Linked DNA regions of Homo sapiens. The protein of the gene in region 1 purifies or fractionates together with the protein of each later gene. This does not show direct contact. Each region holds a gene or a part of one and is shown in the gene's direction. Other genes may lie near its edges. The genes, in order: LAMP3, LTN1, XRCC3 and GALNT12.

The links.
Region 2: the proteins of LAMP3 (region 1) and LTN1 purify together in Homo sapiens (affinity purification with mass spectrometry; 2 studies listed by BioGRID and IntAct, with this or other methods). This does not show direct contact.
Region 3: the proteins of LAMP3 (region 1) and XRCC3 purify together in Homo sapiens (affinity purification with mass spectrometry; 2 studies listed by BioGRID and IntAct, with this or other methods). This does not show direct contact.
Region 4: the proteins of LAMP3 (region 1) and GALNT12 purify together in Homo sapiens (affinity purification with mass spectrometry; 2 studies listed by BioGRID and IntAct, with this or other methods). This does not show direct contact.

The regions. Positions count from the first base shown.
Region 1 is NC_000003.12:183,159,431-183,167,467, reverse strand, and holds the start of LAMP3 (lysosome-associated membrane glycoprotein 3 precursor), read left to right. Parts: upstream 1-4,733; 5' UTR 4,734-4,812; coding exon 4,813-4,861; intron 4,862-8,037. UniProt on the Homo sapiens protein: Lysosomal membrane glycoprotein which plays a role in the unfolded protein response (UPR) that contributes to protein degradation and cell survival during proteasomal dysfunction.
Region 2 is NC_000021.9:28,954,808-28,962,319, reverse strand, and holds part of LTN1 (E3 ubiquitin-protein ligase listerin), read left to right. Parts: exon of another isoform or gene 1-1,242; intron 1,243-1,613; coding exon 1,614-1,803; intron 1,804-2,622; coding exon 2,623-2,862; intron 2,863-3,780; coding exon 3,781-3,934; intron 3,935-4,843; coding exon 4,844-4,988; intron 4,989-5,371; coding exon 5,372-5,558; intron 5,559-7,512.
Region 3 is NC_000014.9:103,705,395-103,712,906, reverse strand, and holds part of XRCC3 (DNA repair protein XRCC3), read left to right. Parts: 5' UTR 1-32; intron 33-1,245; exon of another isoform or gene 1,246-1,339; 5' UTR 1,340-1,441; intron 1,442-1,661; 5' UTR 1,662-1,819; coding exon 1,820-1,874; intron 1,875-4,247; coding exon 4,248-4,385; intron 4,386-5,691; coding exon 5,692-5,904; intron 5,905-7,512. UniProt on the Homo sapiens protein: Involved in the homologous recombination repair (HRR) pathway of double-stranded DNA, thought to repair chromosomal fragmentation, translocations and deletions. Part of the RAD51 paralog protein complex CX3 which acts in the BRCA1-BRCA2-dependent HR pathway.
Region 4 is NC_000009.12:98,802,647-98,811,036, forward strand, and holds the start of GALNT12 (polypeptide N-acetylgalactosaminyltransferase 12), read left to right. Parts: upstream 1-5,023; 5' UTR 5,024-5,052; coding exon 5,053-5,423; exon of another isoform or gene 5,424-5,560; intron 5,561-6,418; exon of another isoform or gene 6,419-7,313; coding exon of another isoform or gene 7,314-7,379; intron 7,380-8,179; exon of another isoform or gene 8,180-8,191; coding exon of another isoform or gene 8,192-8,227; intron 8,228-8,390. UniProt on the Homo sapiens protein: Catalyzes the initial reaction in O-linked oligosaccharide biosynthesis, the transfer of an N-acetyl-D-galactosamine residue to a serine or threonine residue on the protein receptor.

The DNA.
Region 1 (8,037 bases):
GGTGCAGTGGCTCACGCCTGTAATCTCAGTACTTTGGGAGGCCGAGGCGGGTGTATTACCTGAGATCAGGAGTTTGAGATCAACCTGGCCAACATGGTGAAACCCCGTCTCTACTAAAAATACAAAAATTAGCCAGGTGCAGTGAGAGGCACCTGTAATCCCAGCTACTCGGGAGGCTGAGGCAGGAGAATCGCTTGAGCCTGGGAGGCAGAATTTGCAGTAAGCCGAGATCACACCACTGCATCCCAGCCTGGGTGACAGAAAGAGACTCTGTCTCAAAAAAAAAAAAAAAAAAGGAAAAAGAAAAAACCAACCCGGCTGACACTTTGATCTCACATGTCTGGTTTCCAGAATTATAAGAAAGCAAATGTCTGTGGTTTAATTACCCAGTCTGTGGCACTTTGTTATGTCAGTCCTGAAAACTAATGTAACCAACCATAGTCTTGGTCAAAAAACAAATATCAATAAATTTGTAAGATTTAAGTCCATAATTATGTTTTCAACCACAGTGGAATTAAAAATCAATAAAAGAAAGATATCTGAAAAACTATATGTTTGGAAATGAAATAATGCTATTTTAAATAACCATGAGTCGAGGAGATAGCAAAAGGAAATTAGGAAGTCTTTCTAATTATATGAAAATGAAAACATATTAAACTTGTGGGATCCAACTAAAGTAGTAATTAGAGGGACGTTCATAACAGTAAACCTGTTTATTAGAGATGAAGAAAGATTTTATACCACTGGCCTCAACTTCCATCTTTTTTTTTTTCTTTTTTTTTTTTTGAGACAGAGTCTAGCTCCTGTCACCCAGGCTGGAGTGCAGTGGCGTGATCTCAGCTCACTGTAACCTCCACCTCCCGGGTTCAAGCGATTCTCCTGCCTCAGCCTCCCGAGTAGCTGGGATCACAGGTGCCCACCACCACACCCAGCTAATTTTTGTATTTTTAGTAGAGACGGAGTTTCACCATGTTGGCCAGGCTGGTCTTGAACTCCTGACCTCAGGTGATCCTCCCACCTCAGCCTCCTAAAGTGCTGGGATATCCCAGGCAAGTTCCATCTTTGAAAACTATTGAAAGAGGAGCAAATAAAACACAAGTTAAGTAGAAGAAAGAAAATAATAAAGATCAGGTAGAAATGAATAAAACAGAAAACATAAGAACAATGAAGGAACTCGATGAAATGAAATTTTTTTTTTTTTCTTGAAAACATGAATAGAATTGATCAACCTCCAGCCAAACTTATCAGGGAAAAAAGAGAGAAAATACAAATTATTAATATTAGCAGGGAAATAAGAGAGAAAATACAAATTATTAATATTAGTAATAAAAGAAGTGACATCACTACCTATACTACAGATATTGTAAGACAAGGGATTGTTATGAAAAGCTTTATGCTAATAAATCCAACAACTTAGTTGAAATAAAAACCTTTTTTTTTCCTCTTCTTTTCTTTTTTTTAGACACAGGGTCTGGCTTTGTCACCCAGGCTAGAGTGCAGTCGCTTGATCGCAGCTCACTACAGTCTTGACCTCTCAGGCTCAAGCAATCCTCCTGCTTCAGCCTCCCAAGTAGCTGGGACTACAGGCATGTGCCACCATGCCCAGCTAATTTAAAAAATTTTTAATAGTGGCAGGGTCTCCCTGTGTTGCCCAGGCTGGACTTGAACTTCTGGCCTCAAGTGACCCTCCCACCTTGGCCTCCCAAAGTGCTTGGATTATAGGCATGAACCACTGTACCAGCCAGAAAACGTTTTTTGAAAATAATAAACTATGATACTGCGATATAATAATATATCTTTGGTCTCTGTCCCAGTTTCTAAGACAGAGCTCCTAAAATCCTTATATGCCAGAGTTCTAGGAGAATCTTTTGTTTTAATACTTGGTCTTTGACCCTGGTTCCTGAAACAGAGCTCCTAAATCCCTTGGAATTTCCAGGGTAAGAGGAGCAGCTTTATTTTATTTATTTTTTTTTTTTTGAGACGGAGTCTCCTTCTGTCGCCCGGGCTGGAGTGCAGTGGCGCGATCTCCGCTCACTGCAAGCTCCACCTCCTGGGTTCACACCATTCTCCTGCCTCAGCCTCCCGAGTAGCTGGGACTACATGCACCTGCCACCACGCCTGGCTAATTTTTTTATATTTTTAATAGAACTGGGTTTCACTGTGTTAGCCAGGATGGTCTCCATCTCCTGACCTCGTGATCCGCCCGCCTCGGCCTCCTAAAGTGCTGGGATTACAGGCGTGAGCCACTGCGCCCGGCTATGTGCTTAAAATCCTAGACTCTCAAGGCAGACAAGATTTATGGTCAGGTTTCGGTATTTATTATCTAAGTGACTCTGGGCAACTCCCTTCTTTGTGCTTAGTTTCTCCATCTGCGAAATGGGGCAGCGATAATAACAACAGTGTCCATATAGAGTGGCTATGGCGCTTAAATGGAATAAGAAGAGTGCCTGGCACACAGTCTATACCCACTTAATTATCGTCTTTTGAATAAACTGTCTCAAAGATCAGAAAGCAGGTAGTTGCTGAAACTAGGTTGACTGGCACAAGTTAACCCTCACTTTTCACCATAAAAATTCCATTCTGAAACACACTGCAAGCTTTGGTTAAGTTTACTTGATTAGTGTTTGGAGCAACATAGTAAGACAAAATAGTTGTAGCCAAAGTTATTTTTCAGAAAATAATTTGAGGCTAGGCTGAAAGCCCTCAATCTAGTGATAAGGAGGGTCTCCTAATATACTGCTTAAATGTGTATTCCCCACTGGGACTCAAGCCCTGTCAAAACATCGTTGTTTTGACAGACAATCCAATTAATAGAGGAAGGAGATAAGACATTAAAAGGTTGCCTGTCAGCGTTGTTGAGCCGTGGGCCGTGGCTTACGCCTGTAATCCCAATGGTTGGCTAACGCAGGAGGATCATTTGAGGCCAGGAACTCGAGACCAGCCTGGGCAACACAGCGAGACCTCCTCTCTACATAAAATAAAATAAAATAGCTGGGCGTGGTGGCACGCGCCTTTGGTCCCAGCTACTCAGGAGGCTAAGGTGGGAGACTCACTTGAGGCCAGGAGGTCGAAGTTGCAGTGAGCCGAGATCACGCCACTGCACTCCAGCCTGGGTGATAGAGCGAGACCCTGACTCCAAAAAAAAAAAAAAAACGATATTGTGTGTTTTTTGTTCCAGGATTTTCTGGTCTGTAAAACCACCTGGGGCCAGGCACAGTGGCTCACGCTTGTAATCCCAGATCTTTGGAAGGCCGAGGCGGGCGGATCACCTGGGGTCAGGAGTTTGAGACCAGCTTGGCCAACACGGTGAAACCTGGTCTCTACTAAAAATACAAAAAATTAGCCGGACGTGGTGGCGCACATCTGTAATCCCAGCTACTGTGGAGGCTGAGGCAGGAGAATCGCCTGAACCCAAGTTTGCAGTGAGCCGAGATCACGCCATTGCCCTCCAGCCTGGGCGACAGAGTGAGACCCTGTCTCAAAAACAAAAACAAAAACAAACAAACAAAAACAAAGAAAGAAAAAGAAAAAAGAAAATAAAAAAACACACTGGGAGTGGGCATTATTATGTCCGTTTTACAGCTGAAGAATCCAAGGCTCCTAGAGGTTCCCCGACGCCGCACGCCGGGGAGTCGGCAGCGCGAGCTCCCAGCCAGACCTAGCGCCTCTGGGCTGTGCTCCTGTTGCTTCCCGCAAACCGCGGTCCTGGCGAGGCCTGGGCGTGGAGCGCGGCTGCCGCAGACTCCCTGGGAAGACATGGAGTCAGGGTGCTTAGGGGTTTTTAGGCTCCTGCTCGCCTAGTGGCTGGCTTTCTCCCGGCTGAGAAGCGTCTCTGGGTTCCCAGAAAGGTACCCGAGCTGTTAGAAAAGAGGAGACCCTGGGCCGGGCGCAGTGGCTCACGCCTGTAATCCCAACACTTTGGGAGGCCGAGGCGGGCGGATCACAAGGTCAGGAGATCGAGACCAGCCTGGCCAACAGGGTGAAACCCCGTCTCTACTAAAATACAAAAATTAGCTGGGCGTGGTGGCGGGCGCCTGTAACCCCAGCTACTCGGGAGGCTGCGGCAGGAGAATCGCTTGAACCAGGGCAGTGAGCCGAGATCCCGCCACTGCACTCCAGCCTGGCGACAGAGCGAGACTTTGTCTCAAAAAACAAAACAAAACAAAACAAAACAAAAGAAATAAAAAGAAAAGAAATAAAAGAGGAGACCCTGGCCGGGCTCGGTGGCTCACGTCTATAATCCCAGCACTTTGGGAGGTCGAGGCGGGCGAATCACGAGGTCAGGAGCTCGAGACCAGCCTGGCCAATATGGTGACACCCCGTCTCTACTAAAAATACAAAAATTAGCCGGGTGTGGTGGTGCATGCCTGTAATCCCAGCTACTCGGGAGGCTGAGGCAGAAGAATCGCTTGAACCCGGGAGGCAGAGGTTGTAGTGAGCCGAGATCGCGCCACTGCACTCCACCCTGGGCGACAGAGCGAGACTTCGTCTCAAAAAGAAAAGAAAAAGAAAGGAGGAGACCCAGGGTATGAGCGGAGGAGGCCGGCGCTGCCGGGACCACGCGCGTGCGGTAAACGGTCCCAGAGGCCCGGGCCCCGGCGGCTGCGCCGAGTCCCCGCCCCTCCCTGCTCCGTAGGGGTAGGAGGGGGCCGGCGGAGTTTCCCTCCCCGCCCAGCGGCCCTGGGCGGGCTTTTCGGCTGCTTCTCATAAGCAGGTGGTTTCGTTTCTCCGGCACAGGTAGGTTTCTCTGGCACCGATTCGGGGCCTGCCCGGACTTCGCCGCACGCTGCAGAACCTCGCCCAGCGCCCACCATGCCCCGGCAGCTCAGCGCGGCGGCCGCGCTCTTCGCGTCCCTGGCCGGTGAGTGGCCCTCAGCGCTTCCCGCGGTGGCCCTGACGTGTCGGTCCCCTTTCATCTAAACGCACTCTGGAGTCCCGGGCGCCACAGGACGGGCTGCGGGTAGGGAGGTGTGGCGCGTCCAAGGGCTTCCCAGCTGGAACTTGTTTTCCGTGAGTTACTCAGAGCAGGTGTCAACCCCAAAGACAGTGACACTGTCCCTCGCTTCCAAAAGGGTTCTGGACACCTTCTCAGGGAGAGTTTGTAGAGGTCACTCGGATTTAAGAGATGGAGACCTGAGCTAGGGTTTAGGAATGGGAGTCTTGGCTTTGTTATCCGGGAAAAGCGCTCCTGTCTTGCTTTTCCTTGCATCAGATGTGGTCTGACAGATTGTGCCATTTCAGAAAGGTGTAGGAAGAGTGTCAAAGACTTTTTTTTTTTTAAATGATCATTGTACTTCCCATCCCAGATGCCGTCTGGGACGCTGAGTTTATGATTATTTTATGATCCGACCCTCCGCTTTCTCCAGAGCTTTTCCCCCTAGACATTGAGTCCTCGGGTGCTGTGGTGTTGTCCCTGTGATGAAGTTTCCTGGTTACTCGAACGTCATGAGAGAACTGTCTCCGTCCCTACCGCCCGGCTAACATGCTCAAGCAGGGGGCGCGGTGGCCCTTGCTTGTAACATGAATGCTAGGAATGTTAGGGAAGAGGTGAGAAGGGTCGTGCCAGCTGCCCTTGCCTAGGCAGTTCTCCCCTGCGCCACACTTTCACACTTACAGTTTCAGGTTCTTTTAGGGGACAGAAGAGGAAGTCATCATCACGCTCCACAGGGCAAGCTATTAAAAAAGCAAAACAATCTCAGCCTAGCGGTAACCCACAGTGACCTGTATGTGAGCGCTCCTTGAATGGATGGATAGGCTCAGAAACACAATGGTATTGACAGGCCAGGCGTGGTGGCTCACACCTGCAATCCCAGCACTTTGGGAGGCTGAGGCCGGCGGATCACTTGAGGTCAGGAGTTCGAGACTAGCCTGGCCACCGGTGAAACCCCGCCTCTACTAAAAATACAGAAATTAGCCGGGCATGGTTGTGGGCGCCTGTAATCCCAGGTACTCGGGAGACTGAGGCAGGAGAATCACTTGAACCCAAGAGGCGGAGGTTGCAGTAAGCCAAGATCATGCCACTGCACTCCAACCTAGGTAACAGTGAGACTCTGTCTCAAAAAAAATAAATAAATAAAAATAAAAATACAGTGAGTATTGACAAATGCAAGGGCAAGTGGAGAGAAAATGCCCACATTACCGGTTCCTTTCTGAGCTACAAATTCTCAGAGGTGAGCTAGGTGAAGGATGCATCAGAGGTTTCTTCCTCAGAGGTGGAGGCCTTTGAGGGGTGGCACGGAACTGGATTCAAACCCTTGCCCTGACCCTTCCCAGCAGGGAGGCCTTGTTCACATCACCCAACCTTTCGGGTGCTCAGTTCCCTCACTGAAAAATGGGGAGAATAATATCCTCTGCTAGGAGTACTGGGGAAACAAATGAGGTAGCACCTGGACAGCAATTACTGCAGTGATTTTGCTCAGTGATGTTAACTCGTATCTCCTGTTTGTCCCTCCAGTCCCTCTCCCATTCACCTCACAACCTGACCTTGAGCCCCTTCTTCACTCAGTACAGGGCTCATCAGCACATGGTAATTAACAATGATGGACATGGCTTCCTGGCACTCTCTGCATGCCAGGCACTGTTCGCAGTGCTTTAATCCACAAAACAGCTTTGTAAGTACTGCTATTGTCTCCGTTTTACTTGCGAGGAAATAGAAGCACAAAGAGGTTAAATAACTTGCCCCTGATCACATAGCTAGCTGGTGACAGAGTCGAGCTTTGAACCAGAGTCTGTGCCCATAGCAGCTAACCTATGTGCTTTACTCATACATCTACTTACCTATAACTTATTTAGTCTCATAAGAACCCTGAAAAGTAGGTGCTATTCTTATCCCTATTTTACAGATGGCGGTACTGAGGCAGAGGCAGGTTAAGGAATTGTTCATGGTCTCCCAGTTAGTGAGTAGCATTCCTGAGACTGGCATTCAAGACATCTGGCCTTGGCTGGGCACAGTGACTCACACCTGTAATCCCAGCACTTTGGGATCCTGAGGTGGAAGGTCGCTTGAGGCCAGGAGTTTGAGACCAGCCTGGACAACATAGTGGACTGTGTCTCAAACAAAACAAAACAAAAACGAAGTCTGGCCTTGGGGTTCAGGCTCTACGCTACTGTGCTACATGATCCTGCATGCATAGGCTCAAGAAATCCTTGTTGAATTGGAAATGAGCAAAAATCATCAGAAAGTTTTGCTAGGAGAGACGGAGCTTTTGGGTAAACTCTCTGAGTAATCTTTACCCAGTCAACTTGCTTCCCTGATCTCAAATTTTTCCTCCAGAAAATGAGGGGATTTAAGTTCACGTCAGTTAAGTTTAGGTTCAGTTACACGTAAGACACAAGCCAAAATAACAGTAGATTAAACAAGATAGTTGCTTGTTACTCTTTCATGTGAAAACATGTCCAGAGAAATTCAGGTCAGTTCTAGTGTGGGAGTGCTTCACTGGAGATCCGTCATTAGGATCCGACATATAGGTATGTGACTTCTACCCTCAAGGCCTCCTCACGGTTCCACATGTTGGCTGGAGCTCCAGCCATCACATACAAGTTGCAGGTTGGTCAAAGGAGGAAAAACAGAAGGGCTGTAGAAAGGCAGTCCACACAGGTGATTGAGCTGCCTTCACCCAGCCTTCCCAGAAGGCCCACATGATCTTAACACTTCCCTTCTTTTGCTAAAACTCAGTCATATGCTCCCACCCAGCTAGAAAGGAGGTTTAGACATAGAACTCTTTATTCCAGGCAACAAGTGCTCAGCTGAAACTTGAGGTACTGTTAGAAAGAAGGGGAGACTGGGTTTTGGAATAGTCAGCCAGCAGTCTGTCACAGGGATAGTGGCCCTTCTGCTCTAGGATTTCCTTGACTCTCTCTGCTGCACCCTGCTGGGGCTGCTTCTGCTGCCCCTAGAGGTGCCAGAAAACATGCTGGGGGCTAAACTGTGATTCCCTGAACCTGGACATGGCCGTGGGGCTCCAATGACTCCCTGACTGTGCTCCTCAGAGCTCTGCAGACAGTGTGTAGTCTCCAAGGCCTGCCAGGCCTGCTCCC
Region 2 (7,512 bases), on another chromosome or scaffold:
AATGCAGGGTTGCCACAAATCTTCAATTTTTAAAATTGCAGCATTTACAAAGCCCAGTAAATATTAAGCCCAATAAAACAAGGTATGCCTGTACATTATGTTGAATTTCTTATCTTGCTAACTCGAGAGGCATTTTATTCAGAAGTTTATTTTGTTTACCAGGATTCTGCAGAATAGATTGGTTTTACTTGGCAAACTACACTGGGAAAACAGGTATCACAGCCATCTAAACTCTAAAGTAGTTTTTCTTGTTTTATGGAACCTTAATACTTTATGAGCAGAGTCTTAAAATCATCTTTTTTTTTTGAGACAGAGGCTCACTGTGTTGCCCAGCAGGCTGGAGTGCAGTTGCAACATCTCGTCTCACTGCAACTTCTGCCTCCCGGGTTCAAGTGATTCTCCTGCCTCAGCCTCCCGAGTAGCTGGGATTATAGGCACCTGCCACTATGCCCAGCTAATATTTGAATTTTTAGTAGAGACAAGGTTTCACCGTGTTGGTTGGTCAGGCTGGTCTTAAAGTCATCTTTTAAAAAAACCATCAATTAAAAAACAGATTTGAGTTTTGGAACCAGAAAAGGACCTTAGAGATTTTCTAAGTTAATCTTTCCAACTTTCAAATTAGGAGATAGGCCCACGCTGATTAAAAGATTTGTCCAAGGTCATAGGCTAGTTAGTGATAAAGCTTGGACTAAAATATAAGCTCTGGTTACCTACAATTTTTAAATAAAAGGATAAAGTTTTCCAAGCACTACCCAATCTGCACTTGGATTTTTTTTTTTCTTCCAGATTGCTTTGAAATGAACCAAGTTGCAAATTCCTTACTTCTCAGCCCTTAAAGCAAAAGAAGCTCTGGGAACATGGATCAGCATGCTTTAGGGGTGGATTTACAGCTTTTTTTTTTCTTGCTTCCCCACCTCATGAAAATAAGTTGCTGTCAGATATCTGGCCCTAGTAACTCTATATCAGAGAATTTGGGGAAATAAATCCCATTGTTCATATTGAAGTAATTTACCATTATTATACACTAATTGTTCTTTAATTTTAGCAAAATTAATGAACAAAAATTTATAGAGCATTTATAAATCTATCTTCAAAGTTTATTCATTATTCATTGAACATATCTACAGTGTTGATAGCAGGTATCAAAGAAGTTTAAGACAGTCTCTACTCTCAAGGAACTTACAATCTCATTGGAAAGACAAGATATACACAGATGAAACATTTAAATAATTATACAATCCAGTAAGTGCTTTAGAAATTCAGAGAAAAGCAGTGATCATTGTGGGCTGGAGTGGATGGGGAGACTCCATAAAGTAGGTGGGATTTGTACTGATTTTCAAAGAATGGATGGGATTTTAAGTTAAAAAAAAAAGGGGGGGGTGGGGGAATATTTATGGCTGGGAAGGTAACAGCAAAGCGTGGAAGTGAACATCATACAGGCTTAATGGGGAACAGGGAGGATACCAGTCTTCCTAGAACTTCAGGAGGAGGAGGAGGGGGGATAGAATTGGAGCCATGATAACGAAGGGATAGTAATATGGTACAAGTAATATTTTGGACAGAGAGAGTATTTGATCTTGCTGTTAATCTTTGCTTTAATTTTATGGTTTTAGGCATGTCCTAGTTCAGATAAACATGCTTTAGTAACTCCTTGGCTCAAAGGCGATATCCTTGGTGAGAAATTGGTCAACTTGGCAGATTGTCTTTGTAATGAGGACTTGGAATCCAGGGTATCTTCAGAATCTCACTTCTCAGAAAGATGGACTCTTCTAAGCTTGGTATTATCCCAACATGTTAAAAATGGTAGGACAAATATGGCTTTTGTTTTCTAATGGGGAATAGTCCATTTCTCCTTTGTGGGGGATTGCATGGGGCTCAGCTTATGTGTTATTGGTTAAAAATAACAGGACTTACTCATTCAAATTTTTTTTTTTCTTTTCTTTTCTTTTTTCTTTTTTTTTTTGAGACTGAGTCTCCCTCTGTCGTCTAGGCTGGAGTGCAGTGGTGTGATCTTGGCTTACAACATCTGAGTTCAAGTGATTCTTGTGCCTCAGCTTCCCAAGTAGTTGGGACTACAGGTGCATGCCACCATGCCTGGCTAAATTTTATATTTTTAGTAGAGACGGGGTTTCGCTGTGTTGGCCAGGCTGGTCTCGAACTCCTCACCTCAGGTGATCTGTCTGCCTCAGCCTCCCAAAGTGCTGGGATTACAGGCGTGAGCCGCTGCGCCCAGCTCATTTACATATCGTAATATTGTAAGCACCCTAATTGTTTATTAATCTTCATACCATGACTTAGAAGATATTTAATATTTTTAGTTCTATATCCTAAAGGGTTTTTTTTTTTTAGCTCATAAAGTTGACTCATGACTTAAAGGGTTTTCAGTGTACAAACTTGCTCACCCTAACTGTAGACCATTTCTGTTTTCTACTTAATTTAAAACTGCCTTTTTTACTTGAGGGCCTTTATGTGTGAGAGAATGTGTTGATTTGTTGATAAAATTTTGTCTAATACATTTTAAAATCCAGGAAAGACCCATAGAATTATTAATCCAAAGTAAGATATTTAAAAATACACGTTAATATTTTTATTTTTTGTCTGTTTGAACCTTTTTTTCTCCAGATTACTTGATTGGAGACGTATATGTTGAAAGAATCATTGTTAGACTTCATGAAACTTTATTCAAAACAAAGAAATTATCAGAAGCTGAAAGCAGTGACTCATCAGTGTCTTTTATCTGTGATGTGGCCTATAACTATTTCAGCTCAGCGAAAGGATGCTTGCTAATGCCATCATCTGAAGATTTATTATTAACTCTCTTTCAGTTATGTGCTCAGAGCAAAGAAAAAACACATTTGCCAGGTAATAGCCTACTGCTCAAATGTTTTGTTGGGAATCTCCGGCTCTGACCTTCATAGTGAGTGTAAGTGCCCAGGCTTTATTAATTGAATTATAATGTGTTTGAAAGTTTAAAGCATTTTGAGTAAAGGGCTACAGTCTTAAACACTTTCAGCTCTAGAAAGCAAGTTAAAGATGTACGTAGATGTTATTTCTAAAGATCTCACTTGATATTCAAAGAAATTTGGAATGAGCCATAATTGATTAGGTGGAATCTTAGTCCATTCAGTAGTTCTGGCATGTTCCTTAATTTCTTGATGTCTTAGTTTCCTCATTTGTAAAAGGGGGATAATAATATCCCTTTATTATAGTAAAAACATTCAATCTTTGGTGTATATCAAAATAGAATTGAAATTATCTTTTTAAGGACTATATTCTTGCCTTATATGCTAATTCAGACTTATTTGTGAAAGGAACATAAAAAAATACTATCTATAGAGAGCTCTCCTCCTCCCACCCTTCATTCTTTCCTTTCTTTTTTTCTTTCCTTCTTCCTTCCTCTTTCTCTCTCTCTTTTTTTTCTGCCCATCATTGGCTACCAACCCTTTCTTAAATACTAACTTCTGTATTTGGAAATGGTGTAATAATTTTTTTAAAAATGTCTCCAAAAGGACAACTCTTGTAAATAAGTTCAAGCATAAAAAATGTAACTTTAAAAATCTTACCATTTTACATTTATATGATACGTGCTAGCTTGTATGATTGCATGTTTATGACACAGTTGCTTTGTTTGGCAATTGAATTTTGAATGGCAATTTAAAATTTTTCTTTTTTAAATGGTATTTAAAAAAATCTCAGATCTGTAGAGTTGTTTCAAACATTTTGTGCTGATGAGAGTTAATTCAGTGAGATTACAAATTCCTGTTGACATCTTGATTTTAGATTTTCTTATCTGTAAACTGAAAAATACTTGGCTCTCTGGTGTAAATTTATTGGTTCATCAAACTGACAGTTCATATAAAGAGAGTACCTTCCTACATTTGTCTGCTCTGTGGCTGAAGAACCAAGTTCAGGCTTCATCTTTGGATATCAACAGGTAACCTTTTTTGAGCTTGGTTTCAGTGTCTCTTTTATACTTGAACAGTGTCCTTAAATTAGATTCCATGATCAGTGTGAGTGCCTATGAAAAATGACTTGTAGGGCTCGTCCCTATAATCCCAGCTACTCAGTAGGCTGAGGTGGGAGGATCAGTTGAGACCTCCAGGAGTTTGAGACCAGCCTGAGCAACATAGTGAGATGCCATCTCTTAAAAAAAAGAGAAATGAAAAGTGACTTGTTAGGTAACAAATCTACAGGACTCTTATGAAAAGACCCAAACGAATTTTTCCAAAACCATTTTGTTTCAATGACCATCCATTTAAACTGCCAGTTAATTGAAGGATAATTTGCTATAACATACCTGCTGGACTCATAACTTATAGACAGTAAAGTGATGGTGATACTATCCTTTGTCATAGGCTGGTGTGCATTGTAGCCTCTCATGGTCACCACATGTACTGATTGTTCTTGGTTATTTATTTTTTGGGGACAGGTAGGCAGTGTTTTAAGATGTTGAATTGCAAGTATATTTTACCTCTCATACCTAAATCCATATAATAAAGGAGAAGAGAGAATGCATTTAGAGGATATTGGGTTTAGGTAAAATAGTGCTGCATTTCATAAGGTAGCTGTATTTCTGAAATACCTGGTCTGAAATAGGTCAGGTCCTCTTCATTCTGAGATAGATAGGAAGCAACACTAGATTTCAAATGATAAATATTGGATTACCTCCCCAGTTTGACTGTTATGTTGGTGTGTCATCGGTGGGGGAATGTCACTTACCTCTTTTTATTTTCATCATTTCTTTTTGTTCAGGTGAGCTATTATAGGGTATTTAATATGTATTGGGGTATTCAAACTAGTCATAGCGTAACTACAACAGTTAAGTTCTCTGCATTATTTTTAGTCTCCAAGTCCTCTTGTCTGCTGTTGATGATTTGCTAAATACACTTCTAGAGAGTGAAGATTCTTATCTTATGGGAGTTTATATTGGAAGTGTAATGCCGAACGACAGTGAATGGGAAAAGATGAGGCAGTCTCTTCCTATGCAGGTATTTTGGAAATTGAAGAGTACATATCTCATTCTGAAGTTTGGATTTCATGCAAGCTTGAATATTTTTATTTTGGGGAAGAAAAACATAAATAAAATGAGTATTTTGCTTTGCTTTGATGTCTTTGTATGCTCATATACTGGATGTTTGCTTTTTGCAAGACACCATTTGACAGTGGCAGTGGGCATGGTACAAAGACTTAGGACCTAGTTCTGTACTTAAGGAGTCTTAAAGAAATACACATGTTGATAATTTCCTGTAAAAGAAAACAAACTTCTAGGTTTCTGTGGTTTTGGTAATAAATATTCTCACAACTTCATTTTTGTTCAGTCTCAATTGCTTAGGTAATAAATAATTTTGTATATAACGTATTCTTTTCACAGTGGTTACATAGACCTCTTTTAGAGGGAAGATTGAGTTTGAATTATGAATGTTTCAAAACAGATTTTAAGGAACAGGACATAAAGACACTTCCCAGCCATTTGTGTACTTCAGCATTATTGAGCAAAATGGTCTTAATTGCACTGAGAAAGGAAACAGTCTTAGAAAATAATGAGCTTGAGAAAATAAGTAAGTATATATGAGTATTTACATATAACATAATGCATGAATGAATATAATTTTGAAATAATCTTGATTATACTGCAGTTTAAATCTTTAATTCAAGAATCTTCAGCTTTCTTTTTCCTATTTTAATGATGAGAACCTTGAAGTTACTTAAGTGGTGAATGTGAAATTGCAAATTAGATACGAATATATTGGAATCTTGCTATAATCTTGTTAACTGTGGATCGTAATTTGGTGTTAGCTACTCAGGCTGTCATGACATCAATGTAAACAGATCCTGTGGCACATACCCTAAAGAAAATGGGTGAGGCTTTGGTGTTTTATCAAGGATTCAGAATTTTCTGTTGATTAAAAAAAAATTGATACCTGATAATTTTACATATTTATGGGGTACATGTGATATTTTGATATATACATAGAATGTGTAGTGATCAAATCAGGCTAAGCAGGATATCCATCACCTCAAACATTTATCATTTCTTTGTGTTGAGAACATTTCAAATCTTCTAGTTATTTTGCAATATAAATCATTGTTAACTATGGTCATCCTACTGTGTTATTGAATACTAGGTCATATATCTTCTCTCTCACTGTATTTTGGTACCCATTCACCGACCTCTCTTCATCCCCTGCTCTCCCTGACCCTTCTCAGGGTAACCATCAGTCTACTATACTATTCTATCTTCATGAGATCCACTTTTTTAGCTCCCATATACAAATTAGAACATGTGATGTTTGTCTTTCCGTGCATGGTTTATTTCATTTAGCATGATGATGTCCAGTTTCATCCATGTTGCTGCAAATGACAGTATTTCATTCCTTTTTTTTTTTTTTTTTTTTTTGAGACAGAGTCTCGCTCTGTTGCCCAGGCTTGAGTGCAGTGGCGCAATCTCGGCTCACCACAACCTCTGCTTCCCAGGTTCAAGTGATTCTCCTGCCTCAACCTCCCAAGTAGATGGGACTACAGGCGCACACCACCATGCCCAGCTAATTTTTGTATTTTTGGTAGAGACGGGGTTTCACTATGTTGGCCAGGCTGGTCTTGAACTCCTGACCTCGTGATCCGCCCGTCTCAGCCTCCCAAAGTGCTGGGATTATAGAAGTGAGCTACCGTGCCTGGCCTCATTCTTTTTTTAATGGCTGAATAGTATTCCATTGTGCATATGTACCACATTTTATATATCCATTCATTCACTGATGGACACTTAGGTTGATTTCATATCTCAGCTATTGTGAATAGTGCTGCAGCAAATATAGGGGTGCAGATATACCTTTGATATACTGGTTTTCTAAATATTCAATGGGATTGCTGGATTGTGTGATAGTTCTATTTTTAGTTTTTTGAAATACTTCCATATCGTTTTCCAAAATGGCTGTACTAATTTGCATTCCTACCAATAGTATATAAGTTCCTATTTCTCTGCATTCTTGCCAGCATTTGTTATTTTTTGTCTTTGTTTTTTTAGAGATGGGGTGTTACTATGTTGCCCAGACAGGTCTTTATCCTGGGCTCAAGCAATCCTCTTGCCTCAGCCTCCCAAAGTGCTGCGATTACAAGCAGTGCCACCATTCCCAGCTTATTTCTTACCTTTTTGACAAGAGGCATTCTAACTGGGGTTTTGATTTGCATTTCCCTGATGATTACTAATATTGAGCATGGGATTTTTTTTTCCTTTCTTGCCGTTGAGTTGTTTGAGTTCCTTATATATTCCTTATGTTAGCCCCTTGTTGGATGAATAGTTTGCAAATATTTTCTCCCATTCTACAGATTGTCTCTTCACTTTGTTGATTGTTTCTTTTGCTGTGCAGAAAGCTTTTAGTTTAACATAGTCCTATTTGCCTGTTTTTGTTGCCTTCGCTTTTGAAGTCTTAGCCATAAAAATATTTGCCTAGACCAATGTCCTATAGCGTTCCTTGATGCTTTCTAGTTGTTTTATATAGTTTCAGTTCTTAGGTT
Region 3 (7,512 bases), on another chromosome or scaffold:
GCCTCAGGAGCCGGACTGCCGTTGGCCAACCGGTGAGTCTGTTATCCGTCAGTGGACACTCTGCTTCCAGGTGCCTTGGCCTCGGCCCGCGTCCTGAAGGCGGGAGACGTTGCAGCCACGTGCTGGCCTTCCCGGTGCTCCTGCCAGCGTCCCGCTGCTTGACACAGTCCAAGTTTTGTATCCAGACCCAGCCTGGGACAGCAGCCTCCCGACAGCCCCCAGGCCCAGCCTGTCTGTGACAGTCACGCCTGCTCAGGGAACCATCCCTCCGTGCAGATCTGGGCTGTGTTTTGGGTGGTACCTCGGGTGTGGGGTCCCCTACCAGGTGCGAGGTTCATACTCCCCAGGCTGCCTCCTGTCCTCAGGGCTTGGAGAGTCCCATGTTCTGAAAATGACCTCTTTTCGAGCCGGGCAAGGCCGCATCTCCTTTGGCAGTGTAGTGTCTTCCCTGGAGGTGGCATTCCTTTTTGATTTGCCTTCTGTGCTTGGGAACCTCACTTCCTCACTCTGGCCAGCTCTGCCAGCAGTTTGGAGCTGGTTCAGCGCCCCACCGCCCTGCCTTGGCCTGCGCCCGGCCCTCCAGGGTGGCTTCTCGCCAGTTCCTGTCAGGCCTGCCTGGGCAACCAGGCCTGGGCACCTCCCTGTCCCTTGCTCAGAAAACCCACAGGCTGTGGGGGCCCGGGAGCCAAGCCTGGTGCGCGGGCAGGAAACGCATCCTGGAGCACCAGCTTCCCTGCCCTGCCCGCCTCACGGGGTGCCTGGGGGCGTGCCTCAGCCTGCTGCTCCTGTAGTCTGTTCCTGTCTCCCTGAGCAGGCTGAACATGGGCATACGAGTGACCAGCGTGATCGTGTCCAGGCCAGTGCCGCATTCTGTGTGGTCCAAGGGAAAACCTTCTCCAAGTCCACGGCCCGCCCTTTCCTCTGCTGGGTTACGGCCAAGGGCGCCAGGCCTCACTGGAGGACATGGATCCTGGACCCGGCCCTCGAGGCTGCTGCCTTCCAGTTTCCCCATGTCCTGGACACTCTTGGTCTCACCATTTGGGAGGCCGACAGGGGATGCAGAGTGGCCTGTTGGAAAGGCCTTATGTGACCCCAGGCTGAGTCCCTGAGCAGCCTGCTGAGGCCGGAGGGGAGAAGAGCTGAGCTTCTCCCTTGCTGGGCCAGGCTCGGGCTGTGGAATGGCTGCCAGCTCCCTTCCTGGGAGAGGCTGGGTGGGGTCCACAGCACCTTCCTCCCGTCCCACAGGAAGCTGTCTTCTGCTGTTGGCTGCTGGGGGCGACTGATGTTTGGATCCCTGAGCACCCTGCCAATCCCAGACTCACCTTCCCACTCTTTCCAGAGTCCCCAGGGAGACACTTAAGGGAAATTAAACTGCAGAGTGCAAGAGATGCCTCAGTCAAGTCAGCCAAAAACACGCGGGTCATCCCCAAGCCCCAGAGAGGTGAGTCGGGCAGGGCACTCAACTGCTGCAGGAGGATGGTCTTATTTCTAGCACTTTCCACAGGAGGTAAATGTGGTGGGTTTGGGGGGTTTTTCAAATGCATCAGTGTCTGGAATGGGTTCTAAGCTGCTAAATAATTCTTAGAGGTAAATGACAGACATGTTGCCCTAGATGTAGCTAGACAGCCTTCCCTCTACAGTGAAGTCTCCTCCACCCTCAGTGACAGAGCCCCGATGACACGGACACCTCGGCTGCTGTCACTTCCCTGGTTCGGGCCTCCCACAGGCTTTGAATTGAAGGCGAGTGCCTCAGAATTTGCATCCATTGTTCTGTCTTTCCTGGGAAGTTATTCATCCTGGTGGCCAGCCCACCGACAAAATGGATTTGGATCTACTGGACCTGAATCCCAGAATTATTGCTGCAATTAAGAAAGGTACATTTATTTCTATTTACATAAAGGGTGTGGGTGGGTGTGTGCAGTTTATATAAGGCAGGTTAACAAAACGCTGGCTGGCTAAGCCTTCCTTCCTTTGCCTACCCTGATTATTAAACCGAGGGCGGGATGTACTATGGGATTTTCAGGTGTGTGTGTGTGTGTGTGTGTGTGTGTGTTCTTAACTACATGGATTTCTTTCAGTTACTTTTATTTTTATCAAAGTAATACATGCATATTGTCTAAAAGGTAAAATGGAGCCACATAAAGTCTTTTAGTTTTTTTTTTTTGGAGACGGGGTCTCGCTCTGTCACCCAGGCTTGAGTGCAGTGGTGCGATCTCAGCTCAGTGCAAGCTCCGCCTCCCGGGGTTCACACCATTCTCCTGCCTCAGCCTCCCGAGTAGCTGGGACTACAGGCGCCAGTCACCACGCCCGGCTAATTTTTTTGTAAATTTAGTAGAGACAGGGTTTCACTGTTTTAGCCAGGATGGTCTTGATCTCCTGACCTCGTGATCCGCCCGCCTCAGCCTCCCAAAGTGCTGGGATTACAGGCATGAGCCACCGCACCCGGCCGTCTTTTAGTTATTTTTTTAAAAAATATTTACATCTGGGCTCCTAAACGTGTTTATGTTGTAATGTTTGATTTGTCAGTGTTACTGATTATCCATGGACTTCTCTTGGGGGCTGTGAGGACTGAGCGTGCCTACACCTGTGTACCCCAACTTCCTCTCCCCCCAGCTCCCTGCCCATACTTAGAACCTAGTTTGGGTGACATCAGCTGTCAGGGTTGTGACTGGGTGCATACTGGCCATTGTTGAACCTGGTGTGGTGGTGCAGGGGATGGTTTTCTTTCTTACAGCATCTTTTTTCGCCCGAGTTAGTAAATGCTCAAAACTCAGGCCCCACGTGCAGCCCCTGCCCCCTGCTCCCCATGCCAGCCGCCTGGCTGTCATCCGGGGACCCTCCTGCCAGCTTCCATCCTCCCCCGTCTCCCCGGGCCTCAGCTACGTGAACCTCAGCACGCTGTCTGTGGCGAGAAGCCGGAGTGCTCATGGAGCTGCCGCAGCAGCCTGGTGACAGGGCAGGGCCTCGCTGTCCTGACCCTCCATCCTTGGCTGTTGGTTTTTATCCTCCTGTTGGTGGCCTTGTGATCACAGCTGCTGCCACAGCTGCAGACACGACGCTTGCAGACCAGGGACAGAGAAGGGCTCAGCCAGGGAGTTCCTTTCTCACCTGTGTCTCTTATCCAAAAACCAATGTTTCCAGAAGTCCCTGCAGACTTCACGGCTGTGAAGGGGGCTGGGGCTGTGAGGCTTACCAGGGGGAGCGCCCTGCCACAGCCCCGATCCCGGTGAGTCCTCAGGGCCCACAGAGCCTTCTGGAGCAGCCTGTCTGCGGGAAGCCCCCTCCGCTGGATCTGGTGAAACCCAGGGGCGCTTTCTTCATTCCCACCCTTCCATCTCCTTGTGTTTTCTGTGTGGCTTTTCTGAAGATCACACCAGTGCTTACTGTTTTCCAGCCGCACAATGGTTGTCTTTTCACTGCAGCGTTCAGCGCACCCGTGTTGAGGGGGTTTCTGATGTGGTGGGTGTAAGTCCCCGTGGCCGGGTGGGGCGCTTCGTCCACCACTGCTCCCTCTCGTGTGCGCTTCCTCGCACTTCCCTGATCGGCTGATCAGTCTGCAGCATTTGTCGTCTTTCTACAAGTTTGAAATTAGAAAGTGATGCACTTATCTGAGTCCAAAATTAACTTCCTTGCCCTCCTCCCCAGATGGCAGGTCCTGGGGATCTGCACCCCTGTAACTGCTGCCACCGCCGTTCTGATTCGCACATGCTCTGCCCCCTGCCCTGACTGCCCTGCGCAGCTGGCGTTTGGACCTGGGCTCTGCTACCCTCCCAGCGCTCCCCTCCCCAGGGCACATGTCCTCTCCCGCGGCTCAGCCCAGATCCATGCCTGGTGGGCGGGTGGTGGAAAGCTCGGTGCTGGTTTTTTCCTGCCCCCTTCTGGAGCACTGTCTCCAGCTGGCATGGAACTGGGTGCCTGTCGTTTCTTCTCAGTACCGGAACCTGCTCTCAGCACCGGGACCTGCCCAGCCCTGTCTTCTGGCTTCTGCCCCAGCTCACGAGGCTGGTATCTGTCCGAGTGCCAGGACTCAGGGCGCAGTGTCCAGCAGCCCTTTCCTCGTGCCTGTGCATCGGCCACACTGTGTCCAGGGTTTCCAGGGAGCAGGGGATCCGGTCCCTACCCACCTTGTCCCCAGAATCGGAAGCACGGTGCTCTCACAGTGCTCTTAACAAAGCACCTTTTGTCACTGTGTTGCCCTGCGTTGTGACAGTCTGACATTTTCCTGTAATTTATCTGTGTTATTTCAGCCAAACTGAAATCGGTAAAGGAGGTTTTACACTTTTCTGGACCAGACTTGAAGAGACTGACCAACCTCTCCAGCCCCGAGGTCTGGCACTTGCTGAGAACGGCCTCCTTACACTTGCGGGGAAGCAGCATCCTTACAGGTAGGTGGGCCCTGGCATCTCTGCCAGGGGTGACATGTGGCTCCAGCATCATGGTCCCAGTGGTGCAGGGCAGGGGCTGTGCAGACTTCACCCAGGGACCAGCCTCAGGGCGTGTGGCAGCTGCTCCAGCCCCAGAGTTCCCATCTTGCTTGTCCTACACCCATGGGGCTGTGGTCACAGCATCGGGTCAGAAGATGCGTGAGGTGGACACGGGCTGTGGGACCTCCTGGGGACCTTGCTCCATGGACCAGAGGAGGGGGTGCAGGAAGCAGGGGTGGATTTGGCAGTCAGCACCCAGAGCCCTTCAGGCTCTGGCAGGGTGGGAACGGTGTGAGATGGGGCCCTGGCCACGGTCCCACCACCACGTGTGGGAAACCAGGTCTCAGCAGGGGAAGGAGGTACCCAGGGAACCCCATGCGCCTGGACGGACAAGGTTTCCATCCCTGCATCTCAGCAGGCCCTAGTAGGCAGCGGGGTCCTGGCATGAGCAGGGCCCTCTCTCCCCTGCAGGTGGCTCAGTGGCCCAGGCCCCGAGGAACGTGCTGAACTTGGGGCTGCCGTGGTGGGCAGGTGCCACGGCCACACACACGGTGCTGTGGGCAGGGCTCTGGGCAGGCCTCACAGTCAGGGTGGCCTGCTCCACCTGGACGGGGTGCCCAAGGCAGTGTGCAGACTCCAAGGGAGGGGCTGCTCCTCCCGGCCCAGGCCCCAGGCCAAGAGCGCAGCCTGCACCGCATGTCCCACCTTGAGCCTTGCCCTGAGGGGCTTCGGTGTCGTGGAGGAGGCTGTGTCAAATGGCTCATCCAAGGCCCTTTAGCCAAGAGGCTGAGACCAGCATTGCTCCAGAATGGTATCTGTCACAGAGAACTGACGGCATGTGGTGTGCATGTGTGCGCGCCTGCGGGAGCCCATTAAAGCCGCTTGAGAACTGTTCAGCACCCCAGGGCATCCCAGCTGGACAGAGCTGTGCCTTTTTCTTCACATGGAGGCTGTTAGGGAGCGCCTCGGGGCTCTCTGGAAGCTTTGGCTGAAGGCGTCTGGTGCTGCAATTGCCCCATAGGGGGATCCCTGCGGGCATGTGATGGTGGCCCTGGGGCTCCCCCTGACTCTGCATCTCAGGTGCACCCGCCCTTCCCGGCTGGGCCCCCCTCCCTGCCCTCAGCACCTTGCTCACCCCCATGACCGCAGGCACCTGTGCTCCAGCCACACTGCACCTGGCACAGGCAGGCTGACCATGCCTCCCGCAGTCCCCAGCCCTGCCCGCAGGCCCAGGAGAGTCAGGCCTGACACTATCCCTGCCCTTTAGCACTGCAGCTGCACCAGCAGAAGGAGCGGTTCCCCACGCAGCACCAGCGCCTGAGCCTGGGCTGCCCGGTGCTGGACGCGCTGCTCCGCGGTGGCCTGCCCCTGGACGGCATCACTGAGCTGGCCGGACGCAGCTCGGCAGGGAAGACCCAGCTGGCGCTGCAGCTCTGCCTGGCTGTGCAGTTCCCGCGGCAGCACGGAGGCCTGGAGGCTGGTGAGTGGCCACCCCTTCCGTGGGGTCTGGGCAGGTGGGCGGCCCCTGCTTTGTGTGGGACAGCTTTCCGTTGAGGTGGGGCAGTGGCCGCCTCTTGCGCTGTTCCTACCATTGCGTCTCCCTCCTTCTCACCCTGATTGCCCTCGCTCCTTCCAGAACAGGGAGGGGGAAGTGAGGCTGGGCTCAGCTGACAGCAGGAGGGGTGGGAGGGTACGAACCCCACCACCAGGCAGCCGGCCCTCAGCAGAGCTAGGCCCCCAGGGGTCGCTGGCTGAGCACAGCGATGCCGGCCCACGTTCCGCACAGCTGCCAAGCCCAGAGTCCACAGAGCCAGCAACGCAGGGAGGGCAGCACAGCCTTTCCCCGGGTGCCCCGCCGCCAGGCCAGGTATGCTCCTGGCGCGGCCCCGTGAGCCTGTACGCTCTGTCTGTGAAACGAGGGTTCCCTGCATTGGACTAAAGCGTTCAGAGCATGCCTGCCTGGGTCTCTCAGGTGTTAAAAGTTCACGTAGTTTTAAACTGTGAGCTGTGAGGAGGAGAGATGTTTCTCAGTAGCTCCTTAACTTTTAAACTAATTCCCTGGTGTCAACATGCGATTCCCACGTTGTCTTAAACTCCACGTGAACAGAGTGGCAGTATTTTTTCATCGGTGGCACCTCCGAGCACATCTGCTAGGCTCACTTCCCACACAGGGCCGGACCCCAGGCCCTGGACCCACAGGCCCAGCCAGCCACCTCCTCACGGGCCTGACCTGCCAGCAGCGGTGTGGCTGGGAACCTCACCTCTGCCACCCTCAGGTCAGCGTCATCCCCAGGACCCAGGGTGTGCTGTGCCTGCCTGAGCTTCAGTGCTGGGTGGAGGGTGAGGGGTCTCCTGAGCCTCCGTGTCGGGTGGAGGGTGAGGGGTCTCCTGAGAGCCCAGCTGGGGTCTGCTCACGCCACAGGCATTTTTGTCCCTGCAGCCCAGGGGAGGGCACCCTCTTGTCAGGTGCCTGAGTCCCTGCGGCTGGTCTTGGGGATGAGCCTGGAGACAGCCAGAAGCCGGGAGGACAGGAGTTGGCCTTGAAAATGGGAGTCTCCCGCTTACCGCACGGAAGAGCTGCTGTGAGGTGGAGGCGGGACTCGAGCGTGCTCAGGAACGGGACGGGAGCCGCCCTCATTCTCCAGCGTCCTCCGTGCCAGGCTTCGTGCAAATCTGATTTGTGCAATGACTCCCCCTCAGCTTCCACCCCGTTGGCCTTTTCAGTGAAGCCCACACTCCCCGATACCCAGGGACACAGAAGCCTTAGGACACCCTCCCTGAATCCCCCAGCTGTGCCCAGCCCAGTGACTGCTGCGGGATGACAGCACAGTCCAGCCTTGCGGGCCAGGGGAAGGGAGGGGGCCCCACGGCCACCGTGACCACATGCAAGGTTAGGGGTCAGATGTGCTTTCCTGGGGAAATGACTTCCTTTCCTGGATCCAATCTAAAGGCCCGAATTTTGAAAAGAAAGCGGCAGGCGGGCTCTGAAGTGATTCCGACTCCCGTGCTTAAGCCGCGTGAGGCTCTCCCAGGCCTGCTGGGGCCCCGCCCACCGCTGGGCTGTCCACAGCCACCCTCCTGCCAGCTT
Region 4 (8,390 bases), on another chromosome or scaffold:
ACAATACCAAAAAAATTAGCCAGGTGTGGTGGTGCGTGCCTTTAATCCCAGCTACTTGGTAGGCTGAGGCATGAGAATCGCTGGAACCTGGGAGGCGGAGGTTGCAGTGAGCAGAGATCACACCTCTGCACTCCAGCCTGGGCGACAGAGTGAGACTCCGTCTCAAAAAAAAAAAAAAAAAAAAGAGGGAAAGGGGAAAGTCGGGGAAAAGGGATGGGGAGCCCTCAGACCATGATGCAGGTCTGATACTTGAGAAAGGAGAATGGGAAGTGACGAGGGAAAGTCTCAGCCAGGCAGATGGGGGATTCCCAAGCACGGGTTGTGTCCTATATCATGCAGATGTGGCCAGGTTCTGGTACCACACCATGCTCGGTCACTGACTGGGAGTAGCCAGAGGATACCACAAAGGATCCAAAGGCATAGCCACTGGGAGCTGGCAGTCAACCGTGTTTCCCCTAAAAGTTTCTCCCAAAGGGTAATCTGAGCAATGCACCTCATTTCCAACACAATTCCTTTCAACCAACTTTTTTAAATTAAAATTTTTTCTTAATTTTGAATTTTTTAGGCATGGTATCTTGCTTTATTGCCCAGGCTGGAGTGTAGAGGCTATTCACAGACACCATCGTGGTGCACTGCAGCTTCAAATTCCTGGGCTCCAGTGATCTTTCTGCCTCAGCCTCCTGAGTAGCTGGGACTATAGGTGTGTGCCACGGTACCAGGCTCAGCCAGCATTTACTAAATACCTTCTGTGTGCTAGGCATTATGTGTGTTGAATGATAGAAACATGGCCTCATGGCTCCCAGGAAATCCCACATGACTGCAGAACAGTGGGGTCTATGAGTTTTCATCGTCAATTCAAAGGAAGATGTCACAGTTTGGAGGATGCCACTGACAGCTTCATGGCAGAGCTTGGCTACAAGTTGGGCAGAAATGATGGGTGGGGTCTAGGTCGTTGTAGGAAAAAGGAGGAAACATATTGGAAGGAGAGAGCAGGGGGACAGGAGGACCACAGACTGACAGAGTGGATTAGGCAGGAGATAAGGAAGGCTTAGAAGTAAAATAATCTCGAAAGAGTACAATATTTACTTTAAATGTCTTTTTTTTCCTAATAAGGTAACGATTGTTTTAAAGAATTCTGATGTTGTAGAAATATAGAATGTAAACTCCTTGAGATCAATGGCTTTGGATATTGTTTACCTCAAATCCCCAGAATCTAGCACACTGACTCCCAGATGGTAGGTGATCAATAAATATTTGTTGAAAAAAAAACAAATAAATGGAACAAAAGTGAAAGGACCACAGAATCTCACCCATCAGAAGTAAATATAATATAGTTAATGGTTTGGTAAATATTCCTTTAGATTTTTTCCCCTTTCATATGTTAATATATATTATTTTACAAAAATAGGATCATACTATTCATATAGCTCCACGACTTGCTTCTCTTTTCTTTACAATGCATCTTGAACACATGTGTATGTTAAATGCCTACAACTAACTCATGCTTGCAAATAGCACTGTGGTATATTATGGTATTGTACGGATGTGCAATATTTTATTTTATAATCTCTTGATGGAAATTTGGATTGTTTCCAACTTTTTGCTTTTATATACAATACTGCCATAAGCTTCCTTGTATGCATATCTTTTGAGCACTTACGAGTCTATGTTTGTTGGATAGATTCCTAGATGTGGAATTGCAAAATCAAAAAGATGTTAATATTAACATTTCTAATAAATGTTGCCTAATTGCTTTCCAAAAGGTTATACTAGTTTGCATTCCTACCAACAGTGGATGAGAGTGTTTTTTCACATCCTTGCCAACACTGGAATTAATAGCCATTTTCATTTTTGCCAGTCTGATAGGTGAAAAAATATTTCAGGGTAGGTTTATTTTGTATGTATTTTAGAGAGATCGAGCATATTTTCATACTTTTATAAACTATTTATATCCTTTTGGGTGGGAACTGTCTATTTAAATCCTTTGACCATTTTTATTTCTGTTTGTTCTCTTTATTTCCCTATTGATTCACATACTGGGTAAATGTCATCTGCAAATATCTCTTTCTGACTTGCCTTTTGTTTCTGGACTTTGTATTATACTGGAAGCCTTACAGAATTCAAAATTTTTATATAGTCACATTTAGAAATATTTTCCATATGGTCTCTGGTTTTTCTCATTCAATACTTTTATAATTAAATTCCTTCCCTTCCCTTCCTTCCTTCCTTCCTTTTTTTGCTTATTTACTGTGGCATCTTCAGATCATTTGGAATTTATTTTGATGTAAAGTGTGATGTTGGGACTTGATTTGAATTTTTTCCAAATGGTTATCAAGTTGTCCCAATTATTACTTGAATTAGGCACATGTTCCCCACTAATATTTGAAATACCACATCTACCATAGATCATATTAAACTCTAAAAGGAATGTAATAACTCCTATGAAGAGAGCTAATATGACAAATTAAAAGCATCTTCTAGAGATATCTACTTGTTGGTGAGCAGCCGATGACATAACATGGTACTGTTAGTGAACAGATAAGCCCCCTAAAAATAGCAATAAACCCAAGGGCTTTACCTCTGTTGAAAAGATGCTAGATTTCCAACAAGCTCCCAGGTGGTACCAATGCTTCTGGTCTAAATATCATACTTCACTCAGCAAGGTGCTGGACATCTTCCCTTTGCCTTACTGACACTCTCTCCACTCTGTTTTGTGCCCCGGGAGGCTGACTGTGCAGACTGTATCACTCAATCTTCTCAACAACCCTGTTCAGGTGGTGCTATCATTAGATCACCATTTAATAGATGAGCAAATTGAGCCGAGATAAGTAAAGCAACTTGCCTGAGGTCACACTGCAATTCGTGATGGGGCTGGGTTGAGCTCAGGCAAGTGGGCTCCAAGGTTGTGTTCCGACCTCCTAAGCTAAGCTGCCTTTGCATCTCATTGCAGCCTGCCCAACAGTGAGTGGTGTGGTGGGAAATCCTGGACTGTGAGTCAGGAGACCCAGATACAAATCCTCCCTCTACCGCTTGCATGTTGTGTAACCTTGGGCAAGTTGCTTCACTTCTTGAGCCTACATATTCTCATCTGTCAACCTTGCAAGGTTGTCATAGGGTGAAATGAGAAAGTACATGAAAAAGAAAGTCCAGCAGTTTACAGCACACAGTGTGTGCTCAGTAAACAATAGCTTTTATCTGTTACCTGGGGCTTAAGTCCATGTCTTGTAAGGCCTAATTGCATTTCTCTTTTCTCTGTATCTGAACCTCTATTGAGAAGCATTCCAATTTGGCAAGCGGATCCAAGACATTATGAATTGTAATCCTTGTCTGTTTTCTAATCTGACCGCAGATCTTAAATGTGTTGGGTGTCTGAACAGAGGCCAAAGGGCTCAGGTCCAGACCTACCTAACACAACCGCCTTCTGGCATTAACCAGCAGCCTCCATTCTGCGTGGGAAGCAGGCGGGGCCCTGAGCACTGTGGGAAGAGCCACTTCCCTCTAGTCTAATATTAGCAGCAGGTTGTCCTGAGTGGGAGCTGCTTTGCATGGTTCATCCCAAAACCCACCCCCCTCCTGCAACCTGAGGGAGATTTCCTCTGGGGATACCAGTAGCCAAAGGCTGTATGAAGACAACAGCAAGTCAGATTCTACCTCTACCTGAGCCGCCAAGTTCAAGGTCCTCTCCCCACCCTGTGTCTCAGACCCCGCATTTATCAATGAGATAATTGGACCAGATTTGTGCTTTTTAAACTTTCTGGGCTTCTGGTCTCCTTGAGAATATTTGATAAAAAGCTTTGGACCAACTTCCCATGGTAAAACAAACAACAACAAATAGAGCTTACACTCTATCCTTCTACAGGGGATACAGAATGATTCTTTTCCCTGAGCTAGACACCAGCAGAGGGAGTTCCAGATTAATTTAAGATATGATTTGAAATCTCTGCTATCACTTTTACATTCAGATATCTGTGTAGACATTACTTCATCAGAGAAGCTTTCCAAAACCCCCAAACTAGATCAAGTTCTACTATTCTAAGCCCTTTTAGCGCCCTGTAATTCTTCTTCAAAATACTTAACACAATTCTAATTATCTTTTTAATATTTGTCTACTCCATTAGACTTACTTCGTCCCTGGCAGCTCAAGGCTCCCACAGCAGTGATCTCATGAACAGGGCGGCAGCTTCATGGCCTTTTTTGGTTGTTGTTTAATAGAAACAGGATCTCGCTTTGTCATCCAGGCTGCAGCGCAGTGGCGCATAGTTCACGGTAACCTCCAATTCCTGGGCTCACACAATCCTCCTGCTTCAGCATCCTGAGTAGCTGGCACTATAGGCACGTGCCACCATGCATGGCTAATTCTGAAATTTTTCTGTAGAGATGGGAGTCTTGCTATGTTGACCAGTCTCGTTTTAAGCTCCTGGCTTCAAGTGATCCTCCTATCTCGGCCTGGGATTACAGGTGTGAACTATCATGTACAGCCTTCATGGCCTTTTGCTCCTAGCCTCAGAGGTCACAGAGCTATCACGAGGCGAGCCAGGCGAGGGTTTGCTATTCAAGGACTCCAAAGAGTATGGCAGAGGCTGGGCCTGCAGAAGTCAGTGGGGCAGCGTGGTGTCTGTTGATCTCATCGCACCTCCATCTCCTCATCTGTAAAAGGGAGCTCGTAATCCTAGTTGATGGTTGTTTTATTGGACTGTGTAAAGATCAGATGAGATAATGGCAGTAGAATTCATAACACCCTGCAGGGTGTATTCAGCCAACACTTAGCGCCTACAATATGCCAGGCGCTAAGGGTTTTACCACCACTATCTCTTTAATAATGCACCATAGCCCAAGAAGGAAGATGCAAGTCTCAGCCAGCCCACTTGAAGACCCTGCCGAAATGAGCCACCCCGGGGGCTGCGCTTGGGCTGGCGCGGGGCTGGACGGAAAGGGGGCGGCGCGCAGGTGGGGCGGGCCGGGGGCGGGGCGGCACGGCGGTTCCGGGATCCGGGTCCTGGCCTCCACCGCCGCCTTGGGGCGCGCAGATCGCTGGCTGCAGTTGGCGGGCGCATGTGGGGGCGCACGGCGCGGCGGCGCTGCCCGCGGGAACTGCGGCGCGGCCGGGAGGCGCTGTTGGTGCTCCTGGCGCTACTGGCGTTGGCCGGGCTGGGCTCGGTGCTGCGGGCGCAGCGTGGGGCCGGGGCCGGGGCTGCCGAGCCGGGACCCCCGCGCACCCCGCGCCCCGGGCGGCGCGAGCCGGTCATGCCGCGGCCGCCGGTGCCGGCGAACGCGCTGGGCGCGCGGGGCGAGGCGGTGCGGCTGCAGCTGCAGGGCGAGGAGCTGCGGCTGCAGGAGGAGAGCGTGCGGCTGCACCAGATTAACATCTACCTCAGCGACCGCATCTCACTGCACCGCCGCCTGCCCGAGCGCTGGAACCCGCTGTGAGTGCACAGCTCTGGGGAGGAAGCCCGCCCTCAGAGCCCCGGGCCTCAGTTTCTCCATCAGAGCAGTGGCAGGGCGGGGAGCTGGGGTCTCCAGGATGGCGCGTCTTATTGAGTCTTTCTCCGAAGACGATAGTGTAAGAGCTCACATGGGGGCGGGGAGGCAAGAAAGTAAAAAAGACGAAAGTAGAAAAAAAATTACCAGAAATTGGCAAGTCTGTTAGTGATCTCTTAGCTCCCTTCTCCTTGAGAAGTTATCATCTCCCTGAAAAGGTGAGGGTCAGGGCTAAGCAGAAGGGTTTAAGGCGAGGACCCCCCAGCACCCAAAGGACAACCCCGCTCTGCCCGCCTCGCAGTGCCTCCGCGAAACTGACAACTCCTCCGGGCGGTGACCGGCTCCATTCATTCTCTGTGTGTGCCAGGGCCTAAGGGACAAACAAGATGCGAGGGAGCGCCCCACAGGTGAAGCGAAAGATGGCTGTAAGGCCCCCTCAGCGCTAGAAAGCCTCCTTGTGCTCTCCCTGGGCATTGGATTTCTGAGCTTTGGGTGGAGGAAGGCGGGAAGGGGCACGGGGTGGGAAGGGCTCCTTCTGGCCGTGATCCACCCCAGCTCACTCCTGTGGGTGGTGCTGGACTGGAGCCAGCGTGGTCAGAGGCCTAGTTCCTGTTGGAGCTACTGGCTGGGCAGGTTGCGCCCCTGCCTAGGTGGGGATCCAGGGCACACGCTGGCAGCAGGAGGAAGGACAGGTGGCTGCTGCCACCTTTGCCGCTGGGCCTCCCGGGCTCTCACTTTTTCTTCGAAGTGTCAGGGATCTTCCAAGTCCTTTTTTGAGCCCCTTCCTTACAGACTTTGAGGAAAAGAGGACTCAGAGAGGGGGTTCCCATTGGAGCTGGTGGTGGCAGCCTGCCGTGTGCACCAGGCACCTGCCACTCCTCTCCCCTTCAAGCCATTCCTGCTTTACAGGTGTGGAAATAGGTTCGGAAAGGATAGGTGACCCACCCAAGGCCCCTCAGCTGGAATGTGGTAGGACTGGTCTGGAGGGACTATGGCCCTTCTGGCCCACTTGGCACCATGCTGATCTCAGGATTTTAGGGGCCTGCTCCATGGTACCTTGGCCAGAGAGACCATGAATGATGGAATGAGGATGCCCCACCTCTGCCCCACTGTTTCCACTGTCTTCCCTGTTTTGGGGATCTCCTCATGCCTAGCCTCATGCTTCTGCCTGAGGCATTTTTCACTGTTAGTCTTTTTGAATAAAACTTTGTTGGGATTGATAGTAGTTCCTCCACTCACCAGCCTAACGCATGTTTAGCTCCTCGAAACCCCGAGGGTGCCCGCTGAGGCAAGGTGGAGGGGAAGCTTTCAGGTTATACCCAGCTTCAGATTAAATCCAGCCCAGGGGAGATAAAATCCTGGTTCTTTTGCTCGTCACTTCTGTGATCTCTGGCAAGCTGCTTAGCCTCTCAGAGCCTTGGTTTCCCTTCGTTTGCGAAATAGGAAACTCATAAAAGTGAGTCTCCATGCATTCTACATAAAAGTGAGTGGAAAGAACACAACTTAGGAATTAATAAAGCATCAATACCTGGGAGCACACTGTGTGCTTAAATCTTAGTTTTTTCACCTTTCCCTGTTGCCAAGAATGTACTCAAGAGGTTGCTTTTGAGAGTCATCCAGGGATTGGTTGTAGTTTTTCTTTCCTGGATCCAACTTCCTTTATTGTCGCAGGTTGTGAATATCTCTTTGAAACACTGTGGACAATCTGTGGGGCTTATGGTAACCTGTCTCCATGGTGACGCAGCTGCCCTGTGTCCTCTCAGGATTTGCTTGTAGATCCTGCTGTTGCATTGACCCTGGAAGTTAAGCCAAACCCAGCATGATAAGGAGTGTGAATGCCTCCTGCTTCTAATTCCTGCAGCAAGGCCTGTTGGGTTATTCTTACCCAGCCAGAGAGAAAGGTGAGCCTGAGCTGTGTGGGTCTCTGTTGGGCCAGGCTTTGAGATGTAACTTCAGAGTGGTCAGTAGGGTCAGGGTATTTTGTGGCATCTCACTTTTATTACAGTTCATCCAGGAGCTAATCAGGGTCTTGAGATTTTGCCTGAGAAACCTGAATGGCAGATCATAAGTTCACAGTGTGGGTATGGGGTTCTCTGCGAGTCTAATAAACAGAGGGATAATGAGGGTCCTTGAATGTTGCAGGAGGGAGGGCCCTGAGGGAGGAGCATCTAGTCTAACCAGAGAGGAAAAGCCACACCCCCAGGTCACATAGCACATCTCAGGCAGAGCCACAGTCCATATCTGTTACTCGTTCCTCCCTTTTTGGGTGGGGATGATTATTTCTATGTTTATTTTAATTATGAAAGCAATGCATATTCACTCTAGAAATGTTGGCATGCACAGAGAAACAGAAAAGGAAAAAAATGAAAATCCCCAATAAACCTACCACTCAGGGAGAACCATTGTTAACATTTTGCTGTGCCTCCTAGACTTTTAATGAAAGTCTTTACTCTGCAGTGCCTTTTATCAGAGGAAAGGAGTTGGGAATGACTAAGGGACCACTTGGTTTGACTCTTCCTGGTGTCAGCAGGGTGTGGCACTGTGTCTGCCTTCTTGAAGAAGGCCAGACCACTAAAAAGACATTTTAGAGTACTGGTCCTAATTCTGTGAGAGCCAGTATAGACCTGGGCCCCTCTATGAATCTAATAATTTACATGCCAGTGGATTCGAGTATAGTTTTGTTAGTTACAGCACTGAATTGAAGAGGAGGCTAATGATGACTAGGAATCCTTCCTTGCATGGTAACATAGTAAGTATTAATATATATTAATATAAATAAGTATAGTAAGTAAGTCAGTAAGCATAGTAGTATAGTATGACTAGCATCTCAGCAAAGAAGGTGAATTTTTACTCTGAGATGATAGCGGGTCAAAGTGGGGAGACAGATAGTTGGGTGTGTGGCCCTGGGGAAC